2 separate regions of the Homo sapiens genome follow, and region 2 is linked to region 1. A link means that fine-mapping ties the variant in region 1 to the plasma level of a protein whose gene starts in the linked region. Region 1 holds a variant in brackets. A gene starts in the other region. All regions are shown on their forward strands.

What was found. PIP is the chance, under the fine-mapping model, that this variant and not a neighbour inherited with it causes the effect. Protein levels are from antibody-based Olink assays in UK Biobank. Linkage for the fine-mapping came from a reference panel and not from the study's own genotypes, which makes the PIPs less certain.
Region 2: SPOCK1 starts here. The variant in region 1 is fine-mapped to the plasma level of the SPOCK1 protein (UK Biobank, PIP above 0.99).

Annotation. Positions count from the first base shown.
Region 1 is chr12:128,857,293-128,872,374 of GRCh38, forward strand. The region is part of intron 1 of GLT1D1 (glycosyltransferase 1 domain containing 1); the gene reads left to right. It overlaps LOC124903084 (a long non-coding RNA gene), which reads right to left and starts at 14,423. Exons shown (of 3, transcript XR_007063603.1): 1 at 14,306-14,423; 2 at 11,314-11,459; 3 at 10,306-10,446. The variant T/G (reference allele first, on the strand shown) is at 4,371.
Region 2 is chr5:137,498,652-137,513,949 of GRCh38, forward strand. SPOCK1 (SPARC (osteonectin), cwcv and kazal like domains proteoglycan 1) reads right to left here and starts at 675. Exons shown (of 11, transcript NM_004598.4): 1 at 528-675. RefSeq lists a silencer at 626-845.

The sequences.
Region 1 (15,082 bases):
GGCAGGGTTTATGCAGAAGGTTGACTTCAGCTAAACTGGAGTGGAGGGCCATTTAGTCACTTCGTTCTTTCTTTTCCTGGCTGTGCAGAAGCAGAATAAAGGCTGCTATTCAGGCTTTGATGTTTATTCAGACCAGGCGTTTGTTGTCCTTCACCTCAGGAAGGATTGCTGGGGGAAGAAAAAGAAAAAAGCAGAAGTTGCTTGAAGACATCTTCTGCCTTGTGAAAGCTTAGTCTCCTTGAGGAAATGATGCTGGTGTCCTGGACGGGCGGGGAGGGAGGTTCCCTTGGTGACTGAGAGTCCCTGTGATCTAATCAGCAATGAGCAGTGAGGACTGGATGTTCTCCTCCAAAATCTCTGCCAAAGACCCCGGAGACCACCTTCAACTGACCCTGGACACTTGGTGAAGGAGTTCCCCAAATACGTAAATCTGGAGTTCCCATCAGCCTGGCAGAATAGGAGGTCAGAATTAGGTAAGACTGAATTTAAAGAAAAAAAGAAGGGGTTCTATTCTTGCACAAGTTGGTCATTGTAAAGCAACACCCCATCTATAAGTAAGGGTGCTAAATCCTCATGAATGTATTGGCCTGGGAAGCACAGAATCCTCTGGGGACATATAGGTGGGGACCGATCCCAGATCAGAGGTCAGGGAAAGCCTTCTCGTGCCTTCCAAGCCCATTCCCTGTTGAAAAATGGCAAGGTCCAGACCAAGTTTGCTTTGTGGCTCAGTGTTCTTTTTCATAATGAGGATGCCAATATGGGTTGTGAATGGAATTAAAAGAGTTAATACACTTTCAGCGTTTTTAAAGCAGTGTCTGGAACATAGTGAGGACTAAGCTCTGATTTTTTTATCTTGCCCAAATTCCTGTCTAAGGGGTCTGGGAGTCATGCCCTACAAACCATAAAATCCCATCAGATGGGTTTTATTTGACACTGTATATCGTGACTTACCTTCCAGTCTGACTCTGGCATAACATTATGAGACAAGAAAAAAAATCAAAATATTTAACCCCAAAACATGCTTCTGTGCCATATCTTGAAATGGCCCTGCAGAGCCATCCTTTGTGGGAGGAAAATCTGCATCTGTAAAGAATTTCTGCCGGGCCTGGTGGCTCACGTCTGTAATCACAACACTTTGGGAGGCCAAGGCAGGTGGATCACTTGAGGTCAGGCATTGGAGACCATCCTGGCCAACATGGTGAAACCCCGTCTCTACTAAAAATACCAAAATTAGCTGGGCGTGGTGGCACACACCTGTAATCCCAGCTACTTGGGTGGCTGAGGAAGGAGAATTGCTTGAACCCAGAAGCAGAGGTTGCAGTGAGCTGAGATCACACCATTGCACTCCAGCCTGGGCAACAGAGGGGGACTCAGTCTCAAAAAAAAAAAAAAAATCTCCATTAACATAGCTAGATCTTTTTCTTCCATGCCCTCCCAATCCTGAAGAGATTAACTAAAAGTCTAGCACCTTTTAAAGATCTGAAGAGGAAAAATTTGTCATTTATTGTTTCTAAGGGCAGCCACCGTAAGACTTCAAAGGAACGTTGGTCTCCACAGTCTTTTATCTTAACTTGAACATTTCCTTTCTATGGATCCCAGGTCTTAAGACAAGCCTCAACCAATTGTCAGCCAGAAAATGTTTAAATTGACCTATAGCTTGGAACTGCCCTTCCTCCCCGCAACCCCCATGCTTTGAGTTGTCCTGCCTTTCTGAACCAAACCAATGTATTTCTTAAATGTATTTGATTGATGTCTCATGCCTCCCTAAAATGTGTAAAACCAAGCTGTACCTCGACCTCCTTGGGCACATGTTCTCAGGACCTCCTGAGGGCTGTGTCACAGGCCATGGTCACTCATATTTGGCTCAGAATAAATCTCTTAATATTTTACAGAGTTTGACTCTTTTCATCAACAACAGTTGTGAGCTATTAATCAGCATAATGGGCCTTAGTTAGCAAGGTGGGAGAACGGAGGGGGAGGCGTCTTAGGCAGAGCGTCAACCAATGGGATGGGAAGAGACCATCTCTTCCAGAGCTGAGAGTCACGCAGCCTTCACAGCACAGAATCCTGTAGATCAGCGACTCTGCCTCCGGAAGAGCATGGGGCACAGAGGATGTGCCGAGGAGGGGGAGCCATTTTGCCCCCAGGGCCGTTGGGCAAGGTCTGGAGACATACTTCGCTGTCACCACTAGTGTTGGGGGCTACTGGCATTGAGTGGGACGCCACTCCACACCCTGTAGTGCACAGGGCAGCCCCTCCCCAAGAGTGACCCTGCTCCACATGTGAACAGGGCTTTGCTGATGAACCCTTCTCTAGGTGGGGTCAGGAGATGTGGCTGGAGAGGGAGACAGGGCCACGCGACACCTTCAGTTTTGTGCCAAAAACAGGATTGCACCATGAAAGGCCATGAGATTTGTGTGTAGTTGAAAATCATGTATGTATTTGGGTTTGGCATATTTAAGAAGTAAAATGAACAGGACTTGGCAGTTGAGTGTGGGGAATGAAGGAGAGAAAAACCTGTGATTTCCTTCATGATAGAGGGAAAATACTGGGAAAAAAAGACAGGAAAATCTAAAGCTTCTGCTGTCTAGTAGTTTTTTAGAAGATGTAGGTGACAGAATGGAATAATGTGTTTCTTGGGCAAAAAATCTGGGGGATCAATAACTTGAGAATTGATGTCGTATTGTCTGTGTGTCACGTTAAATATTCTTCAGTATAAAGTGTTCAGGGTGTGTAAGTTTCCTTTAAGTATAACCTGTGAGCTGCTAGCGAGTATTCTGAATACCCTAATGTGGCACCTACACTCTAGAGATGTCTCCTAAGCAATGTAACATTAGCAACCCACGTCAGAAGATTTGTTCATTAGCATAAAGCATTTCAGAAATTAGGCTGGCGCGGTGGCTCACGCCTGTAATCCCAACACTTTGGGAGGCCGAGGCGGGCAGATCACCTGAGGTCAGGAGTTCAAGACCAGCCTGGCCAACATGGTAAAACCCCATCTCTACTGAAAATACAAAAATTAGCCAGGCGTGTTGGCTGGCACCTGTAGTCCCAGCTACTCGGGAGGCTGAGGCAGGAGAATCGCTTGAACCCAGGTGGCAGAGGTTGCAGTGAGCCGAGATTGTACCACTGCACTCCAGCCTGGGTGACAGAGTGAGACTCCGTCTCAACAAAAAGAAATTAGTAGTGTCTAAGATATGTGGTTCACTGGGAAGACGACACAGGCTTTTGACCAAGAAGTCAGGGAGCCCTCACCTGCTGGGCAGCCCTTGAGGGGTTGCCAGCTCTATTTGGTCTTGCATCCCTGCCATAACCCTCTGTCATCTGGCTTAACTAGATTGGCTAGTGTGGCTGCCAGTATGGTCCAGTGTGGACTCGATCCTTCGGGCAGGGTGCTTGGAGAACACAGAGAGTTCTGCAGCCCAGCAGAATAGACCGTTTTGTGTGTGTGTGGCTGAATCTGGAGTGAGAGTTCCTCTCATTGTAGGGCACACCTGGTGGTGAGGTTGGAAGGAAGAGGTCAGAAGGGTCCCCACCCCCCTCTGATCCCCTGAGAATGAACATTTGCCAGGAGAGCCAGGCCGTCCTCACGGAACCGGGGAAATTGGTCTAGGTCAGTTTCTAACGGTGAAGTTCAAAATTAAAAGCAGCTCTGGTAAGTGAAAAAATAGAGTCTGACACCTAGAGAACCAAGTTCATGTCACCTGTGGAGGGGGATAAACTGCACAAGGAGTGGATGTAAAAAATATTCACGCCGAGAGTAAGTTGTGGAGTTGTTTCAAAGGGTGCCCCCCGTTATGCTAAAACAGGAGGCTAGTCCTTGGAAACACTGAAATCATCTTCTAAAACCAGGGCGACAAACTGCTGCCTGCCCGGGGTGAAACGCAGCCTCCCTGCCAGTTTTGTAAATAAAGTTGTAGTGGCCCCAGCTATACTATTATACGCTTACGTGTTGTTCACATTTCTGCTTTTGCTTCTCAGGGGCAGAATGGAGTAGTTAGAACAGAGGCCCTCTGACCCACGAACCCAAAGGTATTTCCTCTCTGTCTGCTTCCAGGAAAGGCCTTCTGACCCGTGCTCTACATCTTGATATCAGATATTCACTAGATAACTGAGTTGCATGCCTAGGGTATTGTCTGCAGAGCTGCCAAGGGTACTGGGGAAATGCGTGAAGATGGTCTCGGGAAGAGAACAAAATAGAGCATTTGGTCCTCCTCGGCCCAGAGCAGGGAAGCCCAAGGGGCAGTTCAGTCCAGCCAGGAGTGTGTTGACATCAGAATGATGGCAAATGTTGTCACACTCATAGCTGGACTTGGTGCAGCGGGGTGGTGACTGTGTGTTTGTTGTGTTTCTCCATCTGGAACGGAGAG[T/G]GCAAAGGTGTGTTTGTCGGAATGGGAAGCATTTTAGATAATGGGGGCAGATCGGAGCACTACAGGACACGGACCAGAAAGGAGAGAAAGCGAAGGAAGAAATGCAAACATCCTTTGCATCCAAGGCAGTACTTTCCCTTCCAGGCCCGGCTACTTTCTGGCCGCATCATTCTGAATTCTCTGTGTCAAGCATTTGGGAAGAAAAAAAAAGTATGAGGAAAAGTTTTCAGGTTTTCTAGATTTTCTTTTGAGGAGTCAAAGGAAAGTGTGAATGCAGATGAAGTTCAGACAAGGAGGCTATTTTATTTTTTCTGCCTTCCTTGGTTTTGTTTGTTTTTTGAAGATCTTGTTACTAATTTTTCCACGTCCAAAGATAGCCATTGAGGCCAGCCGCGGTGGCTCACGCCTTTGATCCCAGCATTTTGGGAGGCTGAGGCAGGCAGGTCACTTGAGGTCAGGAGTTTGAGACCAGCCTGGCTAACATGGTGAAACCCTGTCTCTACTAAAAATACAAAAATTAGCTGGGCATAGTGGTGCATGCCTGTAATCTCAGCTACTCAGGAGGCTGACACAGGAGAACTGCTTGAGCCTGGGAGGTGGAGGCTGCAATGAGCCAAGATTGCGCCACTGCAGTCCAGCCTGGGTGACAGAGTGAGACTCTGTCTCAAAAAAAAAAAAAAAAAAACCACAAAGATAGCCATTGAAAGTTGTTGCTGGGCGCTGTGGCTCACTCTTGTAATCCCAACACGTTGGGAGGCTGAGGCAGGCAGATTGCTTGAGTTCCGAAGTTTGAGACCAGCCTGGGCTACATGGTGAAACCCCATCTCTACAAAACATACACCAATTAGCTGAGCATAGTGGTCCCAGCTACTCAGAAGGCTGAGGCAGGAGGATCACTTGAGCCCAGGGAAGTTGAGGCTGTGATGAGCCATGATGGCACCACTGCACTCCAGCTTGGGCAGCAACAGAATGAGACCCTGTATCACACAAAAAGAAAGTTGTTAATATCTTCATTCAGCAGATATTTTTTGAGCGTCTCCCATGGGTACAGTGCTGTGTAGGCGCTACACACAGAGCCGGCGTCAGCAGTCCCTGTCCTCAGGAGGCAGCCGCTCAACCACAGACAGCTTGCGCACATCAGCTCGATGCTAAGCATTGTCACTTGGAAGACAAGTCTAGCATTCTAGCATGGAAGACAGACACAAGCACGTAATTACCCAAACATTTGTCTGATTGTGATACGATCAGTGCTATGACAGAGAAGTGTAGGGTGATGACAGAGAGAGGACTCTGAATAGAGCCGACCTAGTTCCAGAGGGCGTAGGGTCCAAGGAAGAGCTTCCCTTTCCCCCTCTGAGGGTTCACTGAAAACCAGCTGGGCAAAGACAGACTCATAGGAGACACGGCACACACCTGTGTTGGTCATAGTTTTACATGACATGGGAGCCTTCAGAATGAAGACCCAGAGACACGAGAGACTGGCCAGTTTATGCTTAGGTTCAACAAGGTACGGACAGCCACATGGGAATAGGATGGGATGAAAAGGGTCTGATCGAACACCGATAGACTGCTTGGGGAGGCCCAGCAAGGCGAGTCTGTCTGGATTCATCTTCGCCCCTCTGTGCAGCCTTCTTTCCTTCTGGTACAAGGCAGGCCCGCTCTGGAATGGGAGCTTTGTGACTTGCAATCAAACAAGGTAGTTTGGATAATTTATTATTTTTTTTTTTGAAATGGAGTTTTGCTCTTGTTGCCCAGGCTGGAGTGCAGTGGCGTGATCTCGGCTCACTGCAACCTCTGCCTCCTGGATTCAAGTGATTCTCCTGCCTCAGCCTCCCAAGTAGCTGGGATTACAGGCATGTGCCACCGCACCCAGCTAATTTGGTATTTTTTTAGTAAATAGAGACGGGGTTTCACCATGTTGGTCAGGCTGGTCTTGAACTCCTGACCTCAGGCGATTCACTCGCCTCGGCCTTCCAAAGTGCTGGGATTACAGGCGTGAGCCACCGCACCTGGCCTGGGATAATTTCTTTATGGTCAGGTTTTACACAGGAAGGCAGGGGAAAGTTAGAGTAATAATTTTGGGTTTCACTGGCTAACGCAGTGAAACCCCGTCTCTACTAAAAATACAAAAAAAGTAGCCACACGTGGTGGCGGGCACCTGCAATCCCAGCTACTCGGGAGGCTGAGGTAGGAGAATGGCGTGAACCCGGGAGGTGGAACTTGCAGTGAGCCAATATCGTGCCACTGCACTCCAGCCTGGGCGACAGAGCAAGACTCCATCTCAAAAAAAAAAAAAAAAAAAAAAAAGTGTATAGATCTGAATACTATCTGGAAGGACCCTGCGATGCTGTGGCAGCGGGGAGAGAAGAGCACTAGGGGGACTTCCAGGGGCCTGGCTTGTGCCGCTGTGTGCACTGTGGGCAGGTCCCTGCACGTGGAATGCTGGCTGATGCCAGCTCGGCTGGGGCAGGAGAGTCTTAACATGCTGACTGCGAGGTGCCTGTCAGACGACACACTGTAAGTTTTTGTTGAATTAGGGCAGTTGCAACCCACGGGCACTCCGAGAGGCTTCCGGGCTGAAGATGAGAAGCTGAGTGTGGGATGAAGTTTGCTTAGTCCTGCACTAGGGGTGGGGCAAACTGGGATATAACATGATCAGAAAGGAGACAGGCTGGGAAGGCAGAGGGCCCCGGAAATCCAGAAAACTTAGGGAAGCCGAAGAAGAGGAATTTCCCAAGCAGAAGGGCTGGTTAGCGAGGCTGGATGTTGCTAACAGGCCCATCTGCTCAAGACGCCAAAGGGGCAGTGAGGGTTGGCACCTGAAGGTCCGTGGAGATCTTGTCTGATCTTGTTCCGCAGGAGTAGTGGCAGGTGGAAGCCCAGGAGTGGGCAGCCATGGGAGATGGAGACGGTGAATGTGTGCCACACTTTCATTTCCAGAAGTCCTTTTGCGATGAGCAGGGGAGGAGAGAGTAGAGCCTGATTCGGGGAGGATGCTGGGTTGCTGGGGAAACCTTCTAAGGGGCTCGGGCATATTTGATGCTGCCTGAATGTGAGTGGGAAGAGGAAACAGGGAGAGGCATGACTGTGGGGGTGGTTAACTCCTGAGCTGTTGGGGAGGGGTGAGCTGGAGAAGGAGTGTGGCCTCTGCTGGGACCTCAGGGAGAGGCCCAGAGGCCTGCATGTGCCAGAGGGGTGGGCATGGTGGGGGGCACTTGACGGTGTGCCTGTCTTGCAGCTGTGACTTTCTCTGTAGAGGAGGCAAGGCCATGAGCTGCTGGTAGCAGGACAGATAAGGACCTCAGAGGCTGGAGGAGAGGGAAGGTGTCACCACCCCAGCCCTCCCTGGTTCATTGCCAAAGCCTCTTAGCTTGTCTCTTTTCACTTTCAACACAGCAGTCAGGCTGAGTCTGGTGAAATGCTCAGCCAGATTGCATCTCTTCTCTGCTTCACATCCAACACACGCCGAGGCTTCTGCCAGGACCTGCTATCCTCTGCGCTGTGGGCCCCTCAGTGACATAACCTTCCCAGACCCCTGTGAACTCCCAAAGCCCAGCACATCCCACGTCAGGCCCATAGCACCTGCTTTTCTGATATTCTGATATAATACCCACTGATGTTATTTTTTGTTTATTTGAATTTATTTTTAAAATTTACATTGTTACTTTTAGTTTGACAACTAGTAATTATATATATTTATGGGATACCATGTGATGTTTTGGACTATGAATACATTGTGGAATGATTATATCACGGTAATGAACATGTCTATCACCTTGAAGACAGTCAGTATTCCGTATCTGTGGGTTCCATGTCTGCAGTTCCAAGCAACTACAGATCAAAATGTTAAAAAATATATAGAAATAAAAAACAACACAGGCCGGGCCCGGTGGCTCACGCCTGTAATCCCAGCACTTTGGGAGGCCGAATTGGGCAGATCACCTGAGGTCAGGAGTTTGAGATCAGCCTGGCCAACATGGCAAAATCCATCTCTATTAAAAATACAAAAATTAGCCAGGCGTGGTGGCATGCGCCTATAATCCCAGCTACTCGGGAGGCGGAGGCAGGAGAATCGCTTGAACCTGGGAGACAGAGGTTTCAGTGAGCCAAGATCGCACCACTGCACGCCAGCCTGGGTGACAGGGCGAGACTCTGCCACGAAAACAAAACAAAACAAAACAAAAAAACCCAAAAAACCAAAAACCCCCCCAAAACCCCAAACAATACAGCAGAACAACTATTGAATAGCATTTCCATTGTATTAGGTATTATAAGTAATCTAGAGATGATTTAAAGTATACAGGAGGATGTGTGAAGGTGATATGCAAATGCTGTGCCATTTTATATCTGGGACTTAAGCATCCTTGGATTTTGTTATCCACAGATTCCCAGGGGTGATTGTACCTTTTTTTTTTTTTTTTTTGAGACAGAGTCTTGGCTCTGTTGCCCAGGCTGGAGTGCAGTGGCATGATCTTGGCTCACTGCAAGCTCTGCCTGCCGGGTTCATGCCATTCTCTTGCCTCAACCTCCCGAGTAGCTGGGACTACAGGTGCCTGCCACCATGCGTGGCTAATTTTTTATATTTTTTAGTAGCAACCTGGTTTCACCATGTTAGCCAGGATGCTCTCGATCTCCTGACCTCGTGATCCACCCGCCTCAGTCTCCCAAAGTGCTGGGATTACAGGTGTGAGGCACTGCGCCCGGCAATTGTACTTATTATTTTTTGTAGTGAAAACATTTAAAATCTTTTTTTAAGCAATTGAAATATACAGTATGTTATTATTGATGATGGTCACCATGCTGTACAAGCTATTCCTCCTCCTGCCCCCCACCAAGCCCCCCAACAGCCTCTGGGAACCACCATTCTGCTCTCTACTTCTGTGTGCTGGACTTTGTTAGCTCTTCATCTTTTCCCCCACAGTATCCACGTGGTTCGCTGCCTCATCACCTTCAGGCTTTTTTTTTTTTTTTTTCTTGAGACCAAGTCTCTCTCTGTCACCCAGGCTGGAGTATAGTGGCACGATCTTAGCTCATTGCAACCTCCATTTCCCTGGTTCAAGCGATTCTCCTGCCTCAGCCTCCTGTGTAGCAGAAATTACAGGCGTGCGCCACCACACCTGGCTAATTCTTATATTTTTAGTAGAGACAGGGTTTCACCTTGTTGGCCAGGCTGGTCTTGAACTCCTGACCTCAGGTCATCCACCCAATTCGGCCTCCCAAAGTGCTGGGATTACAGGCATGAGCCACTGCGCCAGCCACCTTCAGGTCACCTTCTTTAGCGGGAACTCCCCTGCCCACCCTTCTCAAATGGCAGCCCCTTCCACCACACACTGTCTCCCCGTCTCCCTGGGGCTGGTGGTTTTCCTCCCGAGCAAAAACCTGCCTCTGACATAGAGGAGATTTGCAATTTTCTGGCTCATTGACCTTTTCCCTGCTCTAGAAAGTTGGCCCTTGGGCGCAGTGGCTCACGCCTGTAATCCCAGCACTTTGGGAGGCCGAGGCGGGCGGATCACCTGAGGTCAGGAGTTTGAGACCAGCCTGAACAACATGGTGAAACCCCGTCTCTACTAAAAATACAAAATTAGCCGGGCGTGGTGGCGAATGCCTGTAATCCCAGGCATGTACTCGGGAGGCTGACACAGGAGAAATGCTTGAACCCGGGAGGCAGAGGTTGCAGTGAGCCGAGATCGCACCATTGCACTCCAGCCTGGGCAACAAGAGTGAAACTCCTTCTCAAAAAAAAAAAAAAAAAAACAGAAAAAAAAAAAAGGAAAAGAAAAAAAAGAGAGTTGGCACCTGGAGGGCAGGGATTTGTGCATGTTTTGTTCTTTACTGAACCCTCGTTGCCCCAGCGGTGCTGGGCATACAGCAGGTGCGCTTGGTCACTGAAAATGCATGAGAGGTTCCGACGCAGTAGTGAGCAACTTGGGATCCCATCTCACAGATCTCCACTTACCCTCTGCCTCGGGGGTCCCCCAGCAGGCGCCAGTGCCTGGGGCTGCCATGGAGAAAGCTGACCTGGAGACTCTCCAGGGCTGGCGTTGTTCCAGATGCTCACACGCTTACTACAGAAAGACTGGGGGACGGGAGTGGTTAAGGTGTTGACAAGAAAGTAATTGAAATGGCGGAGCATGGAATCTCCCCAGAACTGGGAGAAAAGCTCGGAGGGACTGTGGGTCCGAGGGGGCAGAGGTCAATGGTCTGGAATTCCGAGGAGGCCAAAGGACTCATAATGGAAGGATTGAGGGGATGAGAGACTGCGATGGATTGTGTATAAACTAACAATAAGGGCGCTAAGCTATTACTGTGGTGTGGCTTAGAGATCTTCAGCCTTGAGTAATTGAATTGAAAGCTAAGTTGAATTGAAAACCCAACCTAAATTGTCTTGGACAATAAAGGGAATGTAATGGCTTTTGCCATAAGAAGGCTGGAGGCAGGGCCTCCTCAGGGTGGTTTTCCAGCAGAGGACAGGGACAGGAGTCCACTTATCTCCGTCTCCTGCATCTGCTTCCCTCTCCTGGCAGAATCTTCTCGCCAGCCCCTCCTGGGTCTCCCTGAATCCCAGGTCAGGCCCATGGAGAACCTCTGAGGTTGAGTCTCTGAAAACACGACCCAGGTCCCAGAATTGAACGTCTAGGGGTGGGTGTGTGGAGAGCCGGATGTTTTGATTGGCATGAGCCTGCAGGAGCACCCTTGGATCTGGAGATGGGGCTCGTCCTCCTCAAGTAAGTGCCAGGGAGGGTCGAGGTATTAGGAAGGAGCGTGTGGGAACAGACACTAGAGGCAACACCCCGCCCAAAAGCGTCACTCGTCCGTATGGAGAAGGGAAATGGGAAACGCAGGCCTCCGGGAACTTCTGAAGATGTAGAGGACTAACAGGTGTTGTGGATCTTGAAGGAGTGAGAAATACCATTAGGGAGGTTGGAATTGGGGAGATTCTCACAGATGTTGAAATGCCTGGCTTCTCTGGGTAGATTGGTGACCTTGTAGCAGTGAGTAGCTCCTCGATCAGCTGGGTGCCGACTGCCAGAGCCAGTGGGGTCTGACCTTGCACTCTCGCCTAGAAGCATAATGTGAGCCCCATGGGTCCTGTCAGATTTTCCAGTAGTCACATTAAACATAGCAAAAAGAAACAGATAAAATCAACTTTAATATTATATTCTCTTTCACTCAACATGTCTAAACATGATTTTGATCTATTTTGTTTGTTTTCTTTCTTTTTTTTGAGATGGAGTCTCGCTCTGTTGCCTAGGCTGGAGTGCAATGGCACGATCTTAGCTCACTGCAACCACCGCCTGCCGGGTTCAAGTGATTCTCCTGCCTCAGCCTCCCGAGTAGCTGGGATTATAGGCATGCACTACCACGCCCAGCTAATTTTATATTTTTAGTAGAGACGGGGTTTCTCCATGTTGATTAGGCTGGTCTCGAACTCCTGACCTCAGTTGATCCGCCCGCCTTGGCCTCCCAGAGTGCTGGGAATACAGGCGTGAGCCACCGCACCCAGCCTCGTTTATTTTTTTCTTTGACAGGGTCTCACTCGGTCGTCCAGGCTGGAGTGCAGTGGCACCGTCTTGACTCACTGCAGCCTTGTCTTCCAGGGCTAAAGCCATCCTCCCACCTCAGCTTCCCGAGTAGCTGGGACTACTACAGGCGTGAACCACCACGCCTGGCTACTTTTTGTATTTTTTGTGGAGACAGGGTCTCGCCATGTTGCCCGGGCTGGTCTCAAACTCCTGGGCTCAACCCATTCACCCGTCTTGGCCTCCTAAAGTGCTGGGATTATAGTTGTGAGTCACCATGCCCAGCCCCATCTATTTTGAAATAAATTATATATTTGAAATATTTATGATATAAATAGAATATTTATAAAACATATTTGAAATACACATTATAAATATGTGTATACATATAATTTATATATTTACGTATAAGTAGTAATATATATTATACGTGTGCATGTCTAACCGAGCTGCGTGTGTCTTTCACACTGAGTGCCTTTCTATTTGGATTAGGCACAGTTTTAGTGCTCAGCTGCCCCAGGTGGCTTTCTTTATCTTACTGGACTATGGGGGCCTGACCCTGCAGATGGGCGTCCCCTCCTGTTCGGTGCAGAGCTCATCCTGTCTTATGATTTCACCATCCTCACCTCCAGTTCATTGAATTTCACCTGATCTCAATTGACATTTGAGTTCAAGACACTTCCTGATCTAGTCACTTTGCCTGTTAGGTGATTGAATTTTTGCAGTCTTTTAAAAAAGAGTTCCTGTGTGTATTCTATTTTTTTTTTTTTTTTTGAGGCAGAGTCTTGCTCTGTCATGGCTTACTGCAACCTCTGTGTCCCAGGTTCAAGCAATTCTCCTGCCTCAGCCTCCTGAATAGCTGGCATTACAGGCATGCACCACCATACCCAGCTACTTTTTGTATTTTTAGTAGAGACGGGGTTTCACCATGTTGGCCAGGCTGGTCTCAAACTCCTGACCTCATGTGATCCACCTGCCTCAGCCTGTTGGGATTACGGTCACTCCAGCCTGGGCGACAGAGTGAGACTCCATCTCAAAAAGTAAATAAATTTGCACTCCAGCAAATATTTTTGAGACTGTCTCAAAACAACAACAACAAAAAAACAAAACCAAAACACAGAAATGACCAAACTCTACTGTACACTCAAGTAAAGAGTCTGGTTGCTGGCCGGGGAGCCACAGAGCGTCTGTGAATCTTGAGTCAGGCGCGCACACATAGGCTTCTTCTCTTTGTGGACCTGCCAAGTGCCCAAAATCTCTATGGGAGATGCTTTTGTTTTCAAGAAAGCCTTTTTAAATCAAATCAGAATTATTTGGGAATAATAGGTGCTTAGTGAATTTATTAGTTGAATTGAATTATTACTTGACAGAAGGAGAGAACATAGATCGATTTAAAGGTGTTGCAAGTCAGCCAGAAACAAGGGTACAATTTTAGTTCATGAATAATTTAGATTAGACAAATTTATTTAGAATATTTATGAGATTGCAAAGTTAGTGTCAAAATGCCATTTAAAAATATGCTTAATAGGCTGGGCACGGCGGCACACGCATGTAATCTCAGCACTTTGGGAGGCTGAGGCAGGCGGATCACCTGAGGTTGGGAGTTCGAGACCAGCCTGCCAACATGGTGAAACTCCATCTCTACTAAAAATACAAAAATTAGCTATGTGTGGTGGCACGTGCCTGTAATCCCAGCTATTCTGGAGGCTGAGACACAAGAATCGCTTGAACCCGTGAGGCAGAGGTTGCAACGAGCTGAGATTATGCCACTGCACTCCAGCCTGGCCCACAGAGCAAGACCGTATCTCAAAAACAAACAAACAAAAACACCTTAATAAATCAGAAACTACCGATTGTCTCTATGTAACCACCTGCATTCCACGCACTCTGCTGTATCGATTCTGCATAAGTCATGAGTCCCTCAGGAATGGACTCTCCAAGTAGAATTCAGCCCCTTTTCCATCTATCAGTGTTTATTTTTGGCTTCTCATTTCTTAGAGCTTTACGAAGAACATAAAATAGCAATTATTCAACCATGGTCAGAAGCATGTTGAATCCTTATTTTTGTGTGATGTATTTTATATTTTTTTAGGCTGAAGCGAGCTGATAGCTTGACTGCTGCAGGCATCTTTCCTGATCCTGCTGGTCAGTTACCTTCAGCATTTCCAAAGGATACTAGGTTTGGTGGGGAGAGAAGGAATGTTACTGACCCACAATGACTGGATCAAAATTAACAGTGAAAATGGTAGGCTCAAGATACACGATGCACTTCAGTAAGTTAAACCAACCTAAGTCTCAAGACCCTAGTTATTCTTTATTTGCACAGTGATGTTGTGACACTTTACGTTATGAAAAAGAAACAGAAAGAGAGAGAGAAAAATATCATCCACATATTAGTACAGTGTAGAATCTCACCATATGCCCCAGGGTCAGACGATTTGAACCTCATGTTTCTCTGTGGCTCCCACAGTCCTAGCAACTTGGTCATTTTATGAACACAGTGTTTAAAGGCTCTAGACCTCCCCCTACTTCCTCCTCCTCTGATCTTTGTCCTCCTCTTCTTTGTTTTACTCATGATTTTGTGCAATATTGCTCCTAAATGCACACCAGTTAATTCACCTGGTGTTCAGCTGAATAAATAACTATTTCATTGCTGGAATTACAAAAGAAAAAAGGGCTAGGTTGGACTTGAACTTTGTTCTATAGTACTGTCTGGATGATTTAAGAGATTTTCAAGGGTAATTTTTTTTTAATTTATTTTTTATTTTTATTTATTTATTTATTTTTGAGACGGAGTCTCGCTCTGTCGCCCAGGCTGGAGTGCAGTGGCGCGATCTCGGCTCACTGCAGTCTCCGCCTCCCGGGTTCAAGCGATTCTCCTGCCTCAGCCTCCCAAGTAGCTGGGATTACAGGCATATGCCACCATGCCCAGCTAATTTTTTTGTATTTTTAGTAGAGACAGGGTTTCACCATGTTGGTCAGGCTGGTCTCGAACTCCTGATCCGCCTACCTCGGCCTCCCAAAGTGCTGGGATTACAGGCGTGAGCCACCGCGCCTGGCCGATTCAAGGGTACTTTTAAGTGTACTTGATTTTCATGTATGTGCTGATTTTGTAATCAGTGCCCCAAGTAAGATGTGACTCCATCTTCCCTATAAATGCAGTGCAGAGGGGTTATAACAGAGATAGGCTCA
Region 2 (15,298 bases), not on the chromosome of region 1:
GGGACCCCGCGGCGGGCACGGGCAGCGCTCGCGCACCTGGGGCGCCTGTCGCGCCTCTAGACCCAGGGACCCCTCTCACGAATGGGGGACTCATCTACGAACGAGGAGGCTGCGTCACGAATCCGAGGCTGCCGTCCAACTACAGGGGACCCGTCTCGTCTATTCTCCGAGTGCCCCACAGATGCCGCCCTCCTATCAGGGGCTTGGTACCCCTCCCCAGAAGCGGGGAGCCCGGGTCCGCACGCCGCACTCCCACAGACGGTGCGGTGCACACGGCTTTGGGGCAGGAGAGGGGAGAACAGGGCTCCAGCAGCACCCGAGCTCCGGCAAGCGGGGTGGGGGCTGCCAGCAGCTGGGGGTCCCCGGCGACAGCTAAGGGAAAGGTCTCCCTTGAGCGCCCTGAGGTCTCGGGGGTAAGAAAGGCGCGCGGAGGTAACCCCAGGCCCTGACCCTGCCAGCCCCCTAGGCGGCCGCGGGGAGGTCCCAACTACTCCAAGTTGGGGCGCGGGGTTCCTCTGGGCACGTACCTTGGGGGCCGGCCCGGGTCCCCTAGTCCGAGTTGCTCGAGCTCCCGCGGCACGGTCGCCGGGAAGGCTGATCGCCGGCTCGCGCCCCTGCGCTCCTGCCACACGCCGCCGCCGAGCGTCTGGCCGCTTTGTGAGCCCGCAGCGATGTGCTCTGCTCGCTCGCTGGCTCGGGCGCGGCGTCCGCGGGCGGAGGAGGCCGAGCGCGCGAGCCAAGGCTCTGGCGCCCCCTGGTGGCCGCGCGCTGCCTGCCCGACAGCCCGGCCGCCCCAGCCCGGAACGTGGTCATTCACATCTTTTTTTTTTTTTTTTTTTTTTTTAATTTACTTCTATTTTTTTTTTTAATTATACTTTAAGTTTTAGGGTACATGTGCACATTGTGCAGGTTAGTTACATATGTATACATGTGCCATGCTGGTGCGCTGCACCCACTAACTCGTCATCTAGCATTAGGTATATCTCCCAATGCTATCCCTCCCCACTCCCCCCACCCCACCACAGTCCCCAGAGTGTGATATTCCCCTTCCTGTGTCCATGTGATCTCATTGTTCAATTCCCACCTATGAGTGAGAATATGCGGTGTTTGGTTTTTTGTTCTTGCGATAGTTTACTGAGAATGATGGTTTCCAATTTCATCCACGTCCCTACAAAGGACATGAACTCATCCTTTTTTATGGCTGCATAGTATTCCATGGTGTATATGTGCCACATTTTCTTAATCCAGTCTATCATTGATGGACATTTGGGTTGGTTCCAAGTCTTTGCTATTGTGAATAATGCCGCAATACACATACGTGTGCATGTGGCTTTATAGCAGCATGATTTATAGTCCTTTGGGTATATACCCAGTAATGGGATGGCTGGGTCAAATGGTATTTCTAGTTCTAGATCCCTGAGGAATCGCCACACTGACTTCCACAATGGTTGAACTAGTTTACAGTCCCACCAACAGTGTAAAAGTGTTCCTATTTCTCCACATCCTCTCCAGCACCTGTTGTTTCCTGACTTTTTAATGATTGCCATTCTAACTGGTGTGAGATGATATCTCATAGTGGTTTTGATTTGCATTGCTCTGATGGCCAGTGATGATGAGCATTTTTTCATGTATTTTTTGGCTGCATAAATGTCTTCTTTTGAGAAGTGTCTGTTCATGTCCTTCGCCCACTTTTTGATGGGGTTGTTTGTTTTTTTCTTGTAAATTTGTTTGAGTTCATTGTAGATTCTGGATATTAGCCCTTTGTCAGATGAGTAGGTTGCGAAAATTTTCTCCCATGTTGTAGGTTGCCTGTTCACTCTGATGGTAGTTTCTTTTGCTGTGCAGAAGCTCTTTAGTTTAATTAGATCCCATTTGTCAATTTTGGCTTTTGTTGCCATTGCTTTTGGTGTTTTGGACATGAAGTCCTTGCCCACGCCTATGTCCTGGGTCATTCACATCTTAATGCAGGGCTAAAATCAGCTTTCAGGCCCAGGCTGGTGCGAGACAGAAGAGGGGACTGAGGATATGAGGCCAAGACGCAGGCCAGCATGGAGGCATTCTCAAAAGGAAGGCCGTCGGGTTATCTAGATCAAAATCACCTGGGTGGAGAGAGAAGCGAACTTCCTAAAAATGATTCCTGCCCCACCGCCCCACTTGCTGAGTCAGCATTCCTTAGGAAAGCTTCCAAGTCTGCACTTTTAATGAGCTCCCGAGGCGTTTTTTATGCATGGCAAAGTTTGATAACCACCGTCCTGCCATTCCCTGGATAAGTGAATATCTGCACTGCCCATCCCAAGTCATGCACCCACCTGCATCTCTGCACTCCCATGCCCTATGCCATGCTTACCACTGTCCTGCCCCTTGAGAACCGGCCCCAGCACTAACCTGTTGAGTTCCCCTAGATGGGAGGGAGGGGAGAGAGGAAAAACAGATCAGGCTACAGGGACAGAACACTGAGAAGCAGAAGTCTGGTCCTGCCCCATCCCCCACCCCGTTTCCAAATACCAGCAATGTTTGGTGAAATAGGGCTGGAAGGGACTTAATGTCTTCCCCTGCCTGTATACAAGTGATACTGGCCTGTCACCTTTCTCTGTACAACTACACCCCATTCCCCAGACACCTGAGCGCTCTTTCAGAACAAGTCTGACCATCCCATCACCCCTCTCCCCTCAACACAAAATTCTTCACAATGCTTTCCTGATAAAGACCAATCTCCTGGCTGGAGCCCCCAGGCCCCGCACATCTGGACCCCGCCTCTCACCCCACTCTCTCCTCCTCTGACCTTCTGGACGGGCTGGCCCTGACCCCAGTGGAAATGGGCTCCCTCCACTCCTGGGTATTCACTTCTGCCTGGGCTGCTGTCCATACCCAGTCCCAGCACAAGTCTCATTAATTCTGCTCTCTGCTTATTCATCCTCACTTCTTCAGAGACTCTTGCTACACCTGTGGACCAGGCCAGCACCTGCAGTGATGCTGTCTTTGAGAACACAGTGCTTCTCTGGCTGTAAGCTCAACTGATATCACTTACTCTATGTCTGCCTCCCCACCTGGCTAGAGCTCCTGAGGGCAGAGGCTATCTTTGTCTTGTTCACCACTTCTCCCAGTGCCCAGAGTTGACACATTGTTAGTGCTCAAAAAAATTTGATAAATGAATGAATGATTTAATGAATGAATGCCACCCAACCATGTCTGGAACAACAACACATCTCAGCCAGCATGCCAACAATAATGTATGGTGTGATCAATAATAAGTTGCGCTACAAATAATTTGGTTACATATAATAGTTGAATGTGTGGAAGTCAGCAGATCTGTGGTTTTCCCAACATTACTCTGCCTGATTTGCATTCCTAGAAACTTTCTCAAAAGGGAGAAAAAGGAATGGAGTCACAGCTACTATGTTGGGGACTGCACATCATCCACGGTTTATTTTATCATGGAATGCTGTGGGTGGGTGCATCAGAGTGGGAGAGAGGTTTAGAAATGATGAAGAGACTGTTTCTTATGTTCATAGAAACCCAAGTAAGCAGCACTTCCCCATTTATCTGCCCAGTGTGACAGCAAGATCTCTCCAAGGAGTTGTCCCTAAATGTCACTTTTGCCTCCTCACCTCCAACTCATTCTTCAACCCACTCCAATCTGCCTTTCATCCTCACTAACTGAAATGACTTGTCACCATCAGCAGCCTCCTCCAAGTCACCAGATCCAGTGGGTACCCTCGATCCTCCCCAGTGTGGCCTCTGAGCAGTTTCTTTTGGCTCCCGTGGCTCCAACCCTCCTGGCTTTCCTGCTCCCCCCATCATTCCTGCTGACATTCCAGTGCTTCTTAGGGCTCAGACCTATCCCTCTTCTCTCCCCCAAAACCCTTTCCCCAGGTGCCCAAGTCCAGTCCTATGCTGAGATCCTCCAGGTACATTTCCAGCCCAGAAATTCCAATGACTTCTGACTGTACCTCCAGCTTCATACTTTACATCTCCTCAATGCCCCACGGGCACGTCAGATCTGTGACCAGGCCAAAACAGAAGTCTGGATGTCCTCCATGCCTCTGTGTTCTCCTTTCATCCCTGTTAGAGTGAATGTATCCGCATCCACATGGCTGCTTAAGTCAGAACCCCACAAGTCATCTCCAGTTCATCCATCTCCTCGCCCCTCACCTCCCATCCATCAGCAAAGGGGGTCCATCCCACTTTCGAACACCCCCTGGAGCCACCCACTTCACCCCACTTCCACAGATACTCCTGAGTCCACAAGACCATCACTTCTCACGTGAAGAACGACGGTGCTTCTTGGCTGGTTTCCTTCTTTCCTTTCCCTTGCAACCCATTATCCACTCAGGTGAGAGCAATCTTTTTTTAAGAGAGCCTTCTCTTTTTAAAATTTTTGTGGGTACATAGTGGGTGTTTGTATTTAGGGGGTACATGAGATGTTTGATACAGGCATGCAATGCATAATGATCACATCACGTAGAATTGGATATCCATCCCCTCAAGTGTTTATCCTTTGTGTTACAAACCATCCAATTACATTCTTTTAGTTATTTTTAAATGTACAATTAACTTATTGACTATAGTCACCCTGTTGTGCTATCAAATACTATGTCTTATTCATTCTTTCTGTTTTTTTTGGACCCATTAACCATCCCCACCCTCCCTGCAACCCTCCACTACCCTTCCTGGCCTCTGGTAACCATCCTTCTACTCTCTATGTCCATAAGTTCAATTATTTTGATTTTTAGATCCCACAAATAAATAAGAACATGTGACATTCGTCTTTCCATACCTGGCTTATTTCACTTGACATAATGATATCCAGTTCCATCCATGTTGTTGCAAATGACAGGATCTCATTCTTTTTATGGCTGAATAGTACTCCATTGTATATATGTAGCAATCTTTTTAAAATAGAAATCACTCCCTTAAATAAAACCTTTCAATAGCTTGCCATGACAGTAAAACAAAAATTCACATTCCCTCCCATGACTCACAAAGCTTTGCACCATCTGGTCCCTTACCTCTGCCCTTCATTCCCTAGGTTCTAGCCAGATTTCTTCTCATGGTTCTGCAAACTTAGCAAGCTTGGGCCCCACAGGTCCTCTCTTCTGGCCAGGCTCTCTGCCCACAGTGTTCCTTTCCCTGCTTTTCACAGGGCAACTCCTTCTTAGCTGTCAGGTCTCACTCAAATGTCACCACCTCATTGAAGCCTTCCCTGACCACACCTTCTAAGATAGACACTTCCCTCCCAGCCACATCAGCATTCTCTCTTGTTGTATCTGGTTGCTCAGTCGTTCAAGAGTGTTTTACTCCTTTGTTTATTATCTCTCTCTTCCTCAATTTGAATATTAATTCCAAGAGGGCAAACACTGTCTTTTTCACTCCTGTATCCCTGAGCTAATCTCAGAACCTGGCATTCAGTGGGCCCTCAACAAATATTTATCCAGTGGTTCAATGAATGAAGCAAATTCCATAACCCTTGATGCATCCTGAAGTATGAAAGCCCTGTCTAGGGCCATTTCCTTTGTCCTCCTTAAATTCCTTGTTCTGCAGATCCAAGTTCCACTTTCCTCGGGGACCTGTCCCCAGTTTAATCAGAGAGCATCTGCTGCTAGCCATGCTCCAATTTCACAACCGGAATCTTCCCCATAACCATCCCCTGCATGGGAAGGGTGACCAAAGGAGCAGGGGCAGGTGTGGCCATGCTGGATCTGGCCTGAGCCAAGGAAGGACATAACCTTGGAGCAGGGGCAAGGAGGCTGGGAGCTGGAGACCTGCCATCAGCTCAGCCAGCACTCGAGGGGAGAAATGGCAGATTTATTCAGCCGCAGGAAGCACCCAGGACCAAAATCAATACTGAGCCTTGGGGCTGTATTTCTGCTTTTCATTGGCTTATGCACAACTATAATAACTCCTTGTTTTAACATAGTTCTTATTTCTACGAGCCCCACATGTTTTATTTTCAGTTTAATGGATCCTCAAACCTGTGCTACTGGTAGTCAGAAGTAGACATAACTATCACCATTTTATGCTGAGGCTAGGGGAGCCCAGAAAGGCAGATAAATTGGTGAAGGTCACAGAGAGAGAAAGAAAGATGGACCTACTTGCAGAAAGTTCTAGGTGTACTCCCTGACCCCTGTTCATGATGCTATGCTGGCAAGAATCAAATCACCCACTAGGTTCCATCCAATAAAAGAGGTGCCTATAATACCTTATCATCAGCACAGATTTATTTTTAGCTGCAAACTCATATATCTACCTGCTACATGGCATCTCCATTGTGCTGTCTCATTGGCACTCTCTGAATTCAGTGTGTCCAAAATTGAACATCTGAGCTGCATCCCCCCTGTTAAACCTACCCTCTTTCCTGTGTCCCCATGTTGGGGAAACCACTTCCCACCCCACCAAGACCCTAGTGTCACTCTGCCCTCCTTCTCAGCCCCCACTTTCAGTGACTCACTCATCTGTCAATCTCTCTTTCACTCCTTTCAGCTCCACCCACTCCCCACTGCTGTACTTCTAGAATCTACTTCCCACCACATGTCACCTGCACACCACAGAGCCCTTATAAGGGTCTCCCTCTCTCAGTTCACCCATGGTTATTCATTATCCACACAGGAGCCAAAGTGGTCCTCTCTGAAGGTAAATATGATCACTTTTCTCTACTTACTTCCCTTCCTGTGCCCTCAGGACAAAGGCCAGGCACTGCACCATGACTCCTGGTACATCCTGCTAAGCCCAGGGGCCTCTAGATCCTTCTGTCCTGGATGTTCCTGCCCCTCCTGCTCTGGTCACCAGCATCCTGCCCCCTCCACTCAGGCCCTTTCCTGCAGGGCTCGCTCCTGCTGAGACGCTCTCCTCCCTGTCCCCTCTTCTCCTGGAGACAGCCCCACTCACCCTTCTGGCCACAGCTTCTGCAAGTCCTCAGAAAAGTCACCCCTGACCCTCACAACTTTGCACTCATCACAACTGCACAATTGCTTGATGTCATTCTCCCACCTGACATTCAGCGGCACAAAGGCAGGGTCCGGGTTTGTGTCTGTCTCATTTGCTGCTGAACCCATAGTGCTGAAAAAAGGGACATAAGTGCACAATAAATATTGAGTGAATTAATAAATACTCATAGCTCAATTGCATTTGTTTCCTTCCCTTCTTTGAAGCAAAGAAGCTCCAAGGTTTATGTTGAATATTTTAACCCCCAAACACCCCTTGGATAGAAAGTAGGGACTGTGAGGGAATGACATGACCTTCCCACTCCCAGGCTCTTCTGCTGTGGTTTGAAGGTGATGTTGGAATAATTCCTTATCCCAAGAAGAGGAGTAATGAAACAGATGCATTTCTTGACACCACTGAAAGCAGCTCACCCAGCAGGGCCTGTAACTTTTGCGAACACGTCGATTTCACCCATTGATTATATGTATTCAGTAGAGCCAGGCTCACTCCATCTCCCTGCGTCCCTCACAGCCGTTTCCCCCACCCGCCCCCACCCCCACCAACACACACACACACACACACACACACACACACACACATGCCTTCTTGCTTTCTTCCCCCTATGCAGAGCCATGGTGTATGGACAACCCACTTTAGGAGGAAATGATTTTAAGCAAATGAATACCTCACAACAATATGAAAGTAAACACCAGAAAACTCTAATGGCAAAGCAACTACTCAGAAACAGAGAAGAGGATGCCCAAGTCCTGACTACAGAGGAAAAAATCATGAGGGCCACAAAACTACCAACAACATGGGCTGACATGCATGAGCACTTACAGCATGTCAGACACCACAGTCCTGTGTGTTATCTGATGTAATCCTCCTGATAATCCCCCATGAAATAGGCGCTGTGAGAAGCCTCATGTTAAAAACAAAAGCCTGAGTCCCAGAGTTGAGAGATCCTTTATCCCAGATCACTCATTGAGTAAATGGAAGAAGAGCCAGGGACTACTTGACGTCAAAGCTCCCACTATGACCCACTACAGCACTCAGGCACAGCGCTGCCACAGCCCATGGAACCCACAGCATTTCCCTTGATGTCCAAGACTTACGCACTTCATAGTCTGATGGAAAATATGTACACACCTGATCTCTGTTGGCTGAATAACAAGCCCTCTGAGACTTGAAGACAATTTTCTTTTCCTTGCTCAGAAAGGCAATCCAGGTTCTTTTTCCTTTTCTTATTAGCTTTGTATTCATTTACAAAGAGAAATGCAACCGCATGTTGGCATCAGGCTCCACGCAGGCTACAAAGCTCTGGGATAGGCTGGCAGGGCCCTCCTTTCCTCTCAGGGTCAGTGCCAGATGGCTGCCTTTAGAAGGACTGCACAGTGTGGGTGCAATGCGGGCTCATGCCTTGGGGAATAGAAGATGGTGACTGCTGAGTCAACAGAGAGTGAGCCCACAGGACGAGGGTCCCGAAAGAGGCTCCAGCTCACCGAGGATCCCAGGACTGGGAGCAAAATGGAGTTCCTTGAGGAACAAGCGCTCCAAACAGCTTTCAAGCTGGGATGGAAACCAGAGAGCAAAACTGGAGCTGGAGGAGTCCCACACATCCAGAAGGGCCCGGGAAACACAACGAAATGAACCCAACTCGTTTGCAGCACCCCCTGAGAAGCCCCATCTTACTGGAACTCAAAAGGAGTTCCAAAACCACCCACTGAGCTAGCATGAACCAAAACCATACTTCCTGTGAGTATTTCCTAACAAAACTTCCAAAATGGAATACAGATGAGTCAGCAAGGTTCTGCACACTAAATTGAACATGCTCAAGCACCCAGAAATGAACAATACTAGAAACGCATCAGTATTATTATCATTATTATTATTATTTATGCTAAAAACTTTTAACGTGAAATGTACTCCCTTAACAGATTTTTAAGTGTAAAATGCTTAAATATGGTCATTTATGGGCCCAATGTTGTACAGATTTCTAGAATTTATTCATCTTGCATAATTGAAATGTTATACCTGTTGATTAGCAACTTCCAACTCCCCCTTCCACCTGCCCCTTTGCAACTGCCATTCCACTCTCTGCTTCCATGAGTTTGACTATTTTAGATAGCTCATATAAGAATCATGCAGTGTTTGTACTTCTGTGACTAGCTCAGTATCCCCCAGGTTCATCCATATTGTCACATATTGCAGGATTTCCTTCTTTTTAAAGGCTGGATAATATTCCATCATATATATATATATATATATATATATATATATATATATATATATATATGTCACATTTTCTTTATCTATTTACTTATCCATGAACATTAGGTTATTTCCACATCTTGTGAATAAAGCTTCAATGAACACAGGAAGGCTAATATCTCTTTGAGATCCTGATTTCAGTTCTCTTGGATAAACACTCAGAAGTGGAATGCTGGATCATATGGTAGTTCTATTTTTAGTTTTCTGAGAAATCTCTATGCTGTTTTCCATAGCGGCTACACCATTTTGCATTCCCACCAACAGTGTACAAGGGTTTCAGTTTCTCCTCATCCTCACCAACGCTTGTCTTTTTTGTTTTTTTATAATAGCCATTTTGACAGGTGTGGGATGATATCTCCTTGTGATTTTCATTTGCATTTCCCTGATGACTGGTGATATTGAGCATCTTTTCATACATCTGTTGGACATTTGTAGGCCTTCTTTAGAGAAATGTCTGTTCAAGCAAAGATATGGAATCAACCTGAGTGTTCACCAATAGACGATTAAAGAAAATGTGGTGCAAACACACACACACAATGGAATACTCTTCAGCCATAAAAAGGAATAAAATCATGTCTTTTGAAGCAACATGGATGGAAATGGAGGCCATGATCTTAAGTGAAACAACTCAAAAGCAGAAAGTCAAGAACTGCATATTCTCACTTACGGTTGGGAGATAAACAGTGTGTACACATGGACATAGAGTGTGGAACAATAGCCACTGGAGATTTAGAAGAGTGGGAGGAGCATAAGGGATGAGAAATTATTTAATGGGTACAAGGTACACTAATCAGGTGACGGTTACACTAAAAGCCCAGACTTCACCACTATACAATATATACATGAAATAAAACTGTACTTGTACCCCTTAAATTGATAGGATTTCATAATTCTATACCATGTAATTTCTCCTTAAAGTCTCACACATGCAGCTCACACAAGCAGGTTAGTTCACCCCTTTATAGACTGAGAAACTGAGGCTCAGAGAAGAAATTTTAACCATTTACACACTCATCTCCACTAGATTTTTCTTAAGGTCAAAGCATTGGAAGAATTCCCCTGGCTGCACACATATTTGCATATAATTTACAGATGCCTCCAACTATGAAAGACATCCTTAGGCAATTTGCAAGTTAAATTTGTATCATTTCACTCAAGGCATGAAGTGAAAAGGGAATTATCAAGCCAGGGGGAACTGCAGGGGAGACAGCAGGGGTCCCCAGAAATTCTCCCAACATCTTCAGTGGGAGTACACTAAATTCAAGAATTTAGCATCTGCTCAACAAAGGAATATTATGCAGGGCATTAAAATGATGGCTATAAAATCCACGAAGCAACATGAAACATAGAGTGAAAGAAAAGCAAGTTACAGAATTGGGTGCACAGAATGACTTTAGCAGCGGGGAAGGGAAGAGGAAAAGAACCGCACCAGGGACAAGCTGTGACTATGTTAGGGCACAACCGTGGGGAATGTTCTTTTCCTTCTTCCAAAGGGTTCCTAGCATAGATGACCTCTACACGTTTTTCACCCTCTCTGTGCCTCAGTTTCCTTTTTTGTAAAGTGGTAGTCATAATAGCACATATCTATCAGGGTTTTGAGAAGATTAGATCATATACACAGAGTGCTTTGCACCAAATATGACATATACTAAGTGCATGATTAATGTTGGATTGGCAGTAGTGTCTGTTATTCTGTCAGCTCTTAGCCCTCACTTCTGACAAAGATGGTGGAGCAAGAACTCTGTTGGGAGTCATGAGGCCTGGCCCAATCAATGCCAGATTTTCCTGGATGTTCCTAGGACTCAGTTTCTTCTCTTGTGAAATGAAGGGACAGGGCCATGGTACTTCTACCCTGTCGTTGCACTCTGTGAAAAGCTGTATGGTGCCCTTTACATCTACAATTGAAAGTTCCCTGTACTTTCAATCAATTACAAAAAAAAAAAAAAAAAAAAAAGGCTCAAAGAAATTAATGAGGGGCCAGGCTCACGCCTGTAATCCCAACACTTTGGGAGGCTGAGGTGTGCAGATCGCATAAGTTCAGGAGTTCAAGAGCAGCCTGGCCAACATGGTGAAACTTTGTCTCTACTAAAAATACAAAAAATTAGCCCATGCCTGTAGTCTCAGCTACTAGGGAGGCTGAGGCAGGAGAGCTGCTTGAACTCAATTGTAGTGAGCCGAGATCACACCACTGCACTCCAGCCTGGGTGACAGAGTGAGACTCTGTCTCAAAAAAAAAAAGAAAAGAAAAGAAAAAGAAATTAATGAGGAAAATACATCAATGGGAAAATGGGCAAAAGTCTTGAATACACAATTCACCAAAGAACTACAAATAACCAAACTGCCAAGTAACCAAAGTAAAACACATTAAGATAATAAGTCACCGATAAAATTTGCAGATACTTCTAAAAATCATTATTCTCTGGGTTGGCAAAAATGAAAAAAAGTTGCTTTCTTTGTGGGATCATAAACTGGTACAGTCCTCTTAGAGGCCAAGGTTCTTGATATTTATGTTAAGAGCCACAAAATGTTTGTGACCAGTGACTTTGTAACTTCACCCATAAGAATTTAACCTGAAAAGATAATTAAGAATGTTTACAAAGGCTTAGCAACAATTATGTTCTTCTCTGAATTATTTATAATAGTGAAAGCTCAGGAATAACCTAAATGTCTAGAATCAGATTGGTTCAATAAACTATATTCACATAATAGAACATCGTGTGGCCATTAGAAATCTTATTATTTGAGAATATTTAAGAGATGGGAAGTATGACATTAATTGAATAAAAATTCCCAATCAGCACCATCTCTCTAGAAGCAGAGCCTGAAACAAGGATTCTTGAGGAAGTGATTGATTGAGAGCACACTCCAAGAAGGAGAGCAAGGGAAGCAGACAAGTTCAGGGGAAGAAAGCCAAGCAAAGGTGTGGTCTCTGCTAGAGACCACTTCCATCGTGTCCCCAGGGAGCTCAGGAACACAGAGTCATACCCCTTCTTGGTGCCCTTTGAGGGGCTGGTCTTTTGTTTCCCCATGGCATTGGCTGTTGGCTGCCTGGGTGGAGGGGTATGAGGATGAGCAGGGGTGCTCTTTCTTCCACCCCTTGATTCTCTGACTCATGTATTCTGTCTACTAGGGACACAGCACCATCTAATGTCTATTGGTTTAAGGTGTCTATTCAGCCTAAAGGATGTTGCCCCATCCTTGCAGAATATCATCTCTAAACTAGTACCTCAGCTATACCTTCAACAGGCTGTTCCAATCCTTAATCAGGCCAGCAACTTCCGTATGGTATAGTTTTTAAAAGGATCAGTGGATCTCATGAATGTTCTCTCTGCCATAACTTCTTTGCCATAAAAGGCAATGTAATGTGGTATCCCATGCCAGTAGATCAGACACTGATTTGGTCCCTAGCATAGTGGTGCTGGCTGAGACACTGTGGGCAGGAAAGGCAAATCTGACCCCTGAATATGTATCAATCCCAGTCAGAATGAAACATTGCCCATTCCAAGTTGGAAGAGGTCTGATACACAAAGGCTCAGCAATGGTCGGTTTCTGGCAGGTGGAACATTGGGCTGTGGCAGTAGCTAAATTAGCCTTAGGGTAAGGAAACCCATATTGTTGGGACCATACATAGTTTTTATCTCTGCAACCATGGCCACTCCTTTCATCAAACCATGGTGCAAGAAATATAGATGGTATATATGTACAGATTAGTAAAATACATATATTTCCTAGCTCTACGGAGAGGGTCTAGAACAAATGCAACCCAGTATCTACGAGCATACCTAGTGCCTAGGTCTTGATTTCAAAGCACTGTTCTATTCTAAGCACTATTCAATTAAAAGAACTAGGGTTCCTTGAAAAGTGCTTGATTTCAGTGCTAGAGCAGGAAAAATATGAGATAAAGCTGGAACACTTTGTGGTGATAGAAAGTCAGAAAATGCTCACAAAGGATGTGGATTTGTCAAAAGAATAAGGTCTAGATAAATAAACTGTGGTATGTCCAAACAATGGAATATTATTCAGTGCTGAAAAGCAATGAACTATCAAGCTGTGAAGAGACATGGAGGAAGCTTAAACGCATATTACTAAGCAAAAGAAGCCAGGCTGAAACAAGGCTACAGACTGCACGACATTTCAACTATATGATACCCTGGAAAAGGCAAATCTACAGAAACAGTAAACAGATCAGTGATGTCCAGGAAATAGGGGGTGGAGAGGTAAGAATAAGCAGAGCACAGAGCATTTTAGGGCAGAGAAACTACTTTGTATGATACTATAATGAGGGATACATGTCATTAGACTTTGTCTAAACCCATAGAATGTACTGCACCCACTGAAACACAATGCCTATGGATTTTAGTTGATGTCAATGTAGATTCATCAATTGTAACAAATGTACCACTCTGGTAGGGGATGTCGATAATAGGGGAGTCTGTGCATGTGGGGGGGACCAGGGAGTAGGTGGGAAGTATCAATGCCTTCTGCTCAATGTTGCTGTTAACCTAAAACTGCTCTAAATAAGTAAAGTCTATTGAATAAATAAATAATAGAGTCCAAGCTGAAGGAGCTCCTAATGGTCAGAGCTAGAAAAATTTTGGAAAAAAAATAATGATAGTATCGGATTTAACCTACAGAATAAATAAACATACAAATAGGGAAGAAAGGACAGTTCCTCCTTACAGTAGACTTCTAATTAATAAACGTAGAAGGAAAAAGGGAAATAGAAAATCATCATTAGGCAAACACTACAGTAATTGTTGCAGACAAGATCTATCAATGGATGGTAAAATTAGCAGGTGACGGTTTGAAGAAACGTAAGATTTGCATGGTCTCAAAGTATTTCCCCCAAGATATTTGTTAATTATAAAAGGAAGGATAGTAACTTTATTGTGAAGAAACCTTGCAGAAACCACCTTAACCAAGGGATGAACATCAAAATCACCAATAATAAGACATGCTGACATCATGAACCTCTTGATACCATTCACAGAGGATACTTCCTTGGCGTTCCTGCCAAAAATGCATAGCTCATTCCAAGCATGAGAAAACATCAGACAAACCCAAACTGGAGGCATTCCGCAAAATAACTGATCAGTATTCTTCAAAAGTGTCAAGATCATAAAAAATAAGACAAACTGAGAAACAGTTGAAAATTGGAGGAGACTAAAGTGAAATAACAACTAAATGTGGGATTATGGAACAGAAAAGGAGCATTGGTAGAAAATGGGTGAAATTCAAATAAAGTCTGTAGTTTATAGTGTCGTACCAGTGTTAGTTTCTGGCTTTGTACTATGGTTATATATGATGTTAACATTAAGCTAAGCTGAGTGAGGGATATAAGGAAACTACACTATTTGTGCAACTATTACATAAGTCTAAAATTAGTTCAAAATGAAAATTTTTTAATCCAAATAATAAAATACACTTCACATTTTGTAAACCAAGGGAAAAAGAAGAAAGAAAGTATAGACCCAGATAATGCAAACTCTTTTTTATGTTTCCTAAGCCCAAGCAAGACAAATAACTCAGGTAGATAAATAAAAAATCATGTCCACTCCCTAAACCAAACAGAAACTGTATTTAGAGTCTCCACATGCTGTGTTCTTCCATTAGCATGGATAATTGGAAATTGACTGCCTTTAGAAATGATGCCGTTTTTCTCTCTGAGTATAACACAAAATAAATTCCCAGGGCAATGGCCTATGTTATTGAATCCAACAGTAATTAAGTTAATGTATCCTATCTTGTGTGTGGAAGTGTAATTCAGGAGGTACAAATCTTTTATTGAACTCAAATTCAATAGTCATATACAATCCCCCTACTTGTGGTGTGTACAAAGGTTGTAGGAAAATTACAAAAGGTGATACATTATATTTTTATTCTTATGAAGACTGGGTTTATTCACCTGACACAAGCCATTCATGGGGCACCCTTTCATTTGCACAAAGGCAAATGTTCAGATGAGTAAATATCAGCACATAATAAATGGAGCAGAGACCTGAGGTTTTTGCCTGCCCAGTATTCTTTACTTTTTCTTCCACTAAACATGCTCTGATTTTCCTGTGAGGAGCCCCCTCCTGCCCTCCCTCAGCCCATATGATGCAGG